2 linked regions of the Homo sapiens genome follow. The protein of the gene in region 2 purifies or fractionates together with the protein of the main gene of each other region. This does not show direct contact. Each region holds a gene or a part of one and is shown on either strand. Other genes may lie near its edges.

The links.
Region 1: the proteins of USP18 (region 2) and TTC1 purify together in Homo sapiens (affinity purification with a luminescence readout; one large-scale study listed by IntAct). This does not show direct contact.

The regions. Positions count from the first base shown.
Region 1 is NC_000005.10:160,046,988-160,050,646, reverse strand, and holds part of TTC1 (tetratricopeptide repeat protein 1), read right to left. Parts: intron 1,134-3,659; coding exon 985-1,133; intron 1-984.
Region 2 is NC_000022.11:18,167,045-18,170,703, reverse strand, and holds part of USP18 (ubl carboxyl-terminal hydrolase 18), read right to left. Parts: intron 3,450-3,659; coding exon 3,370-3,449; intron 2,815-3,369; coding exon 2,668-2,814; intron 861-2,667; coding exon 765-860; intron 1-764. UniProt on the Homo sapiens protein: Interferon-induced ISG15-specific protease that plays a crucial role for maintaining a proper balance of ISG15-conjugated proteins in cells. Regulates protein ISGylation by efficiently cleaving ISG15 conjugates linked via isopeptide bonds.

The DNA of each region.
Region 1 (3,659 bases), on a different chromosome or scaffold from region 2:
AAAAAAAAAAAAAAAAAAAGTTTTGTTTGGCTCTGTTTCCAGTTCTTAATAGAAAGTCTACACTAAAGGAGGGCATCAATACAAATTTAACAAATAAATATATACAGAAAAAAGTTTGAAAGGATACATATCAGATGTTTACAGTGCTATATTTGTATTTTTAACTTTTTTTTAAATTCATTTGTATTTTTTGTTTTTTTAAGACAGAGTCTCACACTGTCGCCCAGACTGGAGTGCAGTGGCGCAATCTCAGCTCACTGCAACCTCCACCTCCTGGGTTCAAGCGATTCTCCTGCCTCAGCCTCTCGAGTAGCTGGGATTACAGGCATGTGCCACCACACCCAGCTAATTTTGTATTTTTAGTAGAGACAGGGTTTCTCCATGTTGGTCAGGCTGGTCTCGAACTCCCGACCTCAGGTGATCCGCCCTCCTCGGCCTCCCAAAGTGCTGGGAGTACAGGCGTGAGCCACTGCACCCAGCCTGTTGGTTTGTTTTTAAGATACAAAGTCTTACTCTGTTGCCCATGATGGAATGCAGTGATGTAGTCACAGCTCACTGCAGCCTCCAACTCCTGGGCTCAATGATCCTCTCTGTTGCCCAGGCTGCAGTGTAGTGGCATGATCTCAGCTCACTGCAACCTCTGCCTTCTGGGTTCAAGCAATTCTCCTGCCTCCCGAGTAGCTAGGATTACAGATGTGTACGACCACACCCGGCTAATTTTTTGTATTTTTAGAAGAGATGGGGTTTTGTTGTGTTGGCCAGGCTGGTCTCGAGCTCCTGGCCTCAAGTGATCTCTCCTCCTTGGCCTCCTAAAGTGCTGGGATTACAGGCAAGAGCCACTGCGCCTGGCCTCCCATATATCTTGATAAGCTCCTCAAAAGCACAGAAATGGAATTTAATTGTGTCTGAAAGGATTATTTAGGACTCACTGGGTAGCAACACAAAGAATAGAAGGAAAAATATTTTTAAAATTTTAGGTTTTACCATACAAGCTTCTCTTGCTTGATGTATTGATGGATCTTTTTCTAATATAGATTTATAGTCTTCCAGGGCTTCATCTAGCTTGTCCGTCTTCTCATACAACTCTGCTCTCCTCAATATTGCCCTGATATAGCTGGGGTTTAATTGAATTGCTGTAAAAAGAGAAGAAATAATTTTTATCACAAAGAAAAATGGCCTACATATCTTTGGCTATATCAGATTCCTTCATCAATCATCCTCCAAGGATACGAAAGGAAGAGTCATTTGCCAAGTGTATACCTGATGCTGGAAAACTTTTTCTATAAAGAGCAAGATAGTAAAGATTGTAGGCTTTGTGGGTCAGACAGACCATCTGTGTCGCAGCTCCTCAATGATACTATTGTAGCACGAGAGCAGGCACAGATAATATGTAAACAAAAAAGGATAGGTGTGTTCCAATAAACTATTTATGGACACTAAAATTTAAGTTCACATAATTTTCACATTATCATGAAATATTTTGCTTTCCAATGATTTAAAACTGTAAAAACCATTCTTAGCTTTTAGGCTATCAAAAACAGGTGGCAGGCTGGATTTGGCTTGTGGCTGTAGTTTGCCATATCCTGGTCTATACTCCAAGTCCTGGTTTTTGCCTACTTGTCATTTACCCAGTCCAGGACAGGCCAGAACAGAGTTCAAGTGCGCAGTGAAAGAGTGAGAGAGAATTTTTTTTTTTTAGACGGAGTCTCGCTCTGTCACCCAGGCTGGAGTGCAGTGGTGTGATCTTGGCTCACTACAACCACCTCCTCCCAGGTTCAAGCGATTCTCCTACCTCAGCCTCCCACGTAGCTGGGATTACAGGCATGCGCCACCATGCCCGGCTAATTTTTGTATTTTTAGTAGAGATGGGGTTTCATTATGTTGGCCAGGCTAGGTGAGAGAGAATTTGAAGATACAAATTAAAGAGTTAAGGGAAACCAATCTGGTGGCAGACTATCATTCTCTTTTTTCTAGGTCTTGAGTACTAAGATTATATTTCTAGTTAAATCCTCACTGTTCCTTCAACCCTCAAACTACTGCTCCAGCACTATGAGGTGGTTGATGCATAATATCTTTTCCTTTATCCAGCATCAGCTGCCCTTCTAATAATCCTTTGCTATGTTTTGGTTCAACATACTGCATTTCTTCTAATTTCTTCCAAGTTGTTTCTTTTTCTATTAGAAAGCAGTGCTGGCCGGGTGTGGTGGCTCAGGCCCATAATCCCAGCACTTTGGGAGGCCGAGGCAGGCAGGTCAATTGGGGTCAGGACTTTGAGACCGTCAGCCTAGCCAACATGGCGAAACCCCATCACTACTAAAAATACAAAAATTAGCTGGGCGTGGCAGTGTGGGTCTATAATCCCAGCTATTTGGGTGGTTTAGGCATAAGAATCACTTGAACCCAGGAGGCGGAGGTTGCGTGCAGTGAGTGGCGATTGCATCACTGTACTCCAGCCCGGGCAACAGAGAGATAATACTCTGTCCCAAAAAAAAAAAAAAAAAAAAAAAAAAAAAAAAAAAAGCAATGTCTTGGCTCTAGAACTTTTTTCTTTTCTCATAATCTATCCTTAATTTTTAAATTCATGCTTTCTGTGAACATTTATTTAGTACTTAATATATACGTCCAATGTAGTATGTCTCTGGGCTATAGTGGGAAACAAGACAGACACAGTCCTTGTTCTCATGAAGCCTTATGCTATTCTAGTAGGCAAGAACAGACAGGTATATAATTTCAATAGCCATAGTACTATAATGAAAAATAAAACAAGGTCATGGAAATACAAGTGAAGCGAGAAATGAGGTAACTTCAGAAAGTGGTCTCAGAATATGAAGAGGGACTATGTGAGAGAGGCCAGCCATGTGAAAGGCTAAGGAGGAGCGTGCCAGGAAGAGGGACCAACAAGAATAACTCTGGCATGTGAGTTATCAGGCTGGGGATCAGAGGCTGAAATGTAGGGCCATGGAGGACCTTCCTGGCCAGGGAAAGGAGTTTGGACTTTTTCCTCAGTGTGATGAGAAGCCACTGGAAAGTTTTCAAGCAAGCTTCAGACATACTCTGATTTACATTTTTGAAGGACTGCTTTGGCTGTAGTGTTGGCGGGTGGGGCAAGACTGAAAGCTGTGAGATCAGCTGGAAAGCTAATGCAGTGGTCCAGATGAGAGAAGATGTTGGCTTGGTCTAAGCTGGAAGTAGTAGAGATGGAAAACAGCAGCCGGATTACATTAAATATGTCTTTAAATTTGAGCCCATGGAACTTGCTAATTAATCAATTAGCCATGTGACACGAAAGAACAATCAGGGATGACTCCAAAGGTTTAACTTAAGCAAGGGGACAGATGGTAATGTCATTTATTAGAATGGAAAAAACTAACTGCAAGTTTTGTGTGTGTGTGGGGGCTGGGCACGTTAAATCTGAGGTGCCTACCAGACATCCAAGAAGAAAGAACTTTGCAGTGGGATACAGGACACTAGACTACAGGGTAGAAGTCAGAGTTGAAGACAGAAACTCTGCCATACACATGGCATGTATTTATTAGTTTTATATTTTAAAATTCATGAATTTTGGCTTTTATCTTTATGAAAATACTCCTTTTGTTTCCCTTAATTGCATTTTTGTTGCTCCAATTTCTTTTTTTTAGACGGAATCTTGCTCTGTCACC
Region 2 (3,659 bases):
GTCAGAGAAATGTCAGGGCTAGCAACGCGTTCTTCCCAAAAAGAGGGGAGCGGGGCGACATCACGGAGTTCAAGGCTCCTGTTCGCCGAATCTGCTGAGCTCCTCTGAGAATAATGCAAAACTTGGCTATTCTACCACCATGTGGCCCCCCACAAGAGGCACAAGGGCACAGGGCTCTGCACAGGTACCAGGACCCAGGGAGCCACCGCGTCTGCTCCAGGGAGCTGGTCTCGCCTGGAGGGAAACGCCCTGCCGGCTGCTCTCAGGCGCCCTCCTGCAGTCCCTCTCAGTGATGCGACATGAGAAGCCACATCCACGGCTCCAGATATCAGAACCACAGCGTCCCAGATACTAGCCAGACCCAGATTCCCTTTCTCACCCACCATGGGGTGTCCTCGGGGCCTCTGATGATTCTATCAGGAAATCCACGGGGGGCAACCCCAGACTAGTGAAGGACAGATGACCCCTGAACAGCACGGGTTTGGACTGTATGGGTCCGCTTATACACAAATTGTTGTAAATAAATACAGTCTGCCCTCCCCCATAGGCACGAGTTCCACATCTGCAACCAAATGCTCATCAAAAATAAAGTATCCCAGATGCACAACCGCATAGATGAGGGACTGACTTTTCCTATACGTGGGTTCCACAGGGCCGACTGGGTGTGACTTGAGTGTGTGTGGATTTTGGTAAAAGCAGGGGTCCTGGAACAAATCCCCCATATGCACCGAGGGACAGCTGAGTCTGATTTAGGGAATGAGTACCTGTTTCCCACGGGTCTTCTTCCCACAGTTCTCACAGAAGCACTTGCTTTTGCTTGATAACTCCCTGGGCTGGAAGAAGCAGTGCAGGGCGTCCTCCTGTCCCACCCAAGAGAACAGGGAAAAAGCAGCGTTGGTATTTCCCACCTAGAATACTATATTCATCTGTTCTCACACTGCTGTGAGACAATAGCTGAGACTGGGTAATTTATAAGAAAAGAAGTTTGATTGGCCCATGGTTCTGCAGGCCAACCGGAAGCATGGCAGCATCTGCTTCTAGGGAGGCCGCAGGAAGCTCCCAATCATGGCGGAAGGCCAAGCAGGAGCAGGTGTCTTACCTGGGAGGAGCAGGTGTCTTACCTGGGAGGAGCAGGTGCAAGAGACCAAGTGGGGAGCTGGAGTGCAGGGGCGCGATCTCAGTTCACCGCAATCTCCGCCTCCCGGGTTCAAGCGATTCTCCTGCCTCAGCCTCCTAAGTAGCTGGGACTACAGGCTGCGCCACCACGCCCAGCTAATTTTTTTATGTTTTTAGTAGAGACAGGGTTTTACCATGTTGGCCAGGCTGGTCTCAAACTCCTGACCTCAGGTGATCCACCCACCTCAGCCTCCCAAAGTGCTGGGATTATGGGCGTGAGTTACCACACCCAGCCTGGCTCCACACTTTTAAACAACCAGATCTCATGAGAGCTCACTGTCACAAAGACAGCACCACGGGGGATGGTGCCAAACCATTCACGAGAAACCCTCCCCCATGATCCAATGTCCTTCCACCAGGCTTTACCTCCAACACTGGGGATTACAATTGAACAGGAGATTTTTGGGCAGGGACACAGTCCCAAACTGTATCAGTTACAGCCTCCCCACACTTTGCAGCTGAGGGTTTCAGCTTTTCTTCTGGTTCTCCTCATATCCCCCTTAATGCCTGGCCTGGTGTGGTCCACTTGGCAGGATCTCAAAGGGCACCTACTGACTGGAGGAACAAAACAGGAGGGGGCTCCTATTAAGGGAGCAGTATGAGGGAAGTGGAGGTAGGAGGGAAAAACATTTTTGCCAAACAAAGGAGAAATTGGCCAGTGCCATGAAAATGAAATAAGTGACTTTCCAGAAGCCAGAGATAGATCAAAGAGGCAAGGGGGAATTGGCCACACTGTGCTGTGTGGTGTAATGGTTTGAGGGTTTGTCCTCCCCAAAACCCAGGTTGAAACTGAATCCCCAGTGTGGCTGTATGGAAAGGTGGGGACTTTGAGAGATAATTGGGGAGGGCAAGGTGGCTCATGCCTGTAATCCCAGGGAGGCTGAGGCAGGTGGATCATGAAGTCAGGAGTTTCAGACCAGCCTGGCCAACATGGTGAAACCCCATCTCTACTAAAAATACAGAAATTAGCTGGGCATGGTGGTGGGCACCTGTAATCCCAGCTACTTGGGAGGCTGAGGCAGGAGAATCACTTAACACCAGAGGCGGAGGTTGCAGTGAGCTGAGATTGTGCCACTGCACTTCAGTCTGGGCAACAGAGGAAGACTCTGTCTCCAAAAAAAAGGGGGGGGGGAGGTTATTGCATCATGAGGGCACAGCCCTCATAAATGAATTAATCCACTCATGGATTAATGGGTTAATCGGTTATCCTGGGAGTGGGACTGGTGGCTTCATACGAAGAGGAAGAGAGATTTGAGCTGGCACATTAGCATGCTCAGCCCCCTCGCCATGTGATGCCCTGCACTGCCTCGCCTCAGGACTCTGAGAGTTCCCACCAGCAAGCAGGCCCTCACCAGGTGCAGCCCCTCAACCTTGACTTCCCAGCCTCCAGAACTGTAAGAAATAAATTACCTAGTCTCAGATATTGAGTTATAACAACAGAAAATGGACTAACACATACAGGGGCAGCAAATACCAAGAGAATCCCCTTACCAGTGTCTTCAGGGGCTTTGAGTCCACATCAAAAAGAGAAAGTGGGAGGGTGAGCATGCTGCTGTTTCTGCTACTCTCCATGGCACAGTCAACGCAAATCAAGGAGTCCTTCACCCGGATCGTATACAGGGCCTGCAGTCTCTCCACCTGCAAGAGGGAGAGCGGAGAGGTGAGATGGGAACACCACCATAAGCCAGGTCAGGCCAACTGCCAGAAGGTGGAGCCAAGAGACAGAAGCTCCTCACAAAGGTGCAAAATAATACCAGTAACAATATTATGAAACTGTGATAAGTGTTTTATGTGGATTAACTCTTTTTTCTTTTTTTTTTTTTTTTTTTTGAGACAGAGTCTCGCTCTGTCACCCAGGCTGGAGTGCAGTGGCGCGATCTCGGCTCACTGCAAGCTCCGCTTCCCGGGTTCACGCCATTCTCCCGCCTCAGCCTCCCGAGTAGCTGGGACTACAGGCTCCCGCCACCACGCCCAGCTAATTTTTTGGTATTTTTAGTAGAGACAGGGTTTCACTGTGTTAGCCAGGATGGTCTCGATCTCCTGACCTCGTGATCCGCCTGCCTCAGCCTCCCAAAGTGCTGGGATTACAGGGGATTAACTCTTTTATTCCTCTACACACTACGGGAACAACAGCTGAATGAGTGAAATGAGCAGCATCTTAAGCTTCCGAGTGCTCTGGTTCTAGGTTCTTACCAAGTGCACATCAGTGATCTGGTCCTTAATCAGGTTCCAGAGTTTGAGGTACAGTTGGGCAGCATCATGTTGGACAAACACTGGCCACAGAGAAAAGGAACAGCCAATTAGTGAGGTCTTCAGAGTCGCTTCTCATGCCCTGGTACTTAGACACACATGAACACTCATCACTTTGTCTCTTCCTAGCCCTCCACCCCACTGCAAGGCTAAGTTGGCACGACAGAAGAAGTGATCAATAAATGAACAGTAAGTTTGGTATTGATTTTTGAGAACGCCTCTTAAAACTTAAG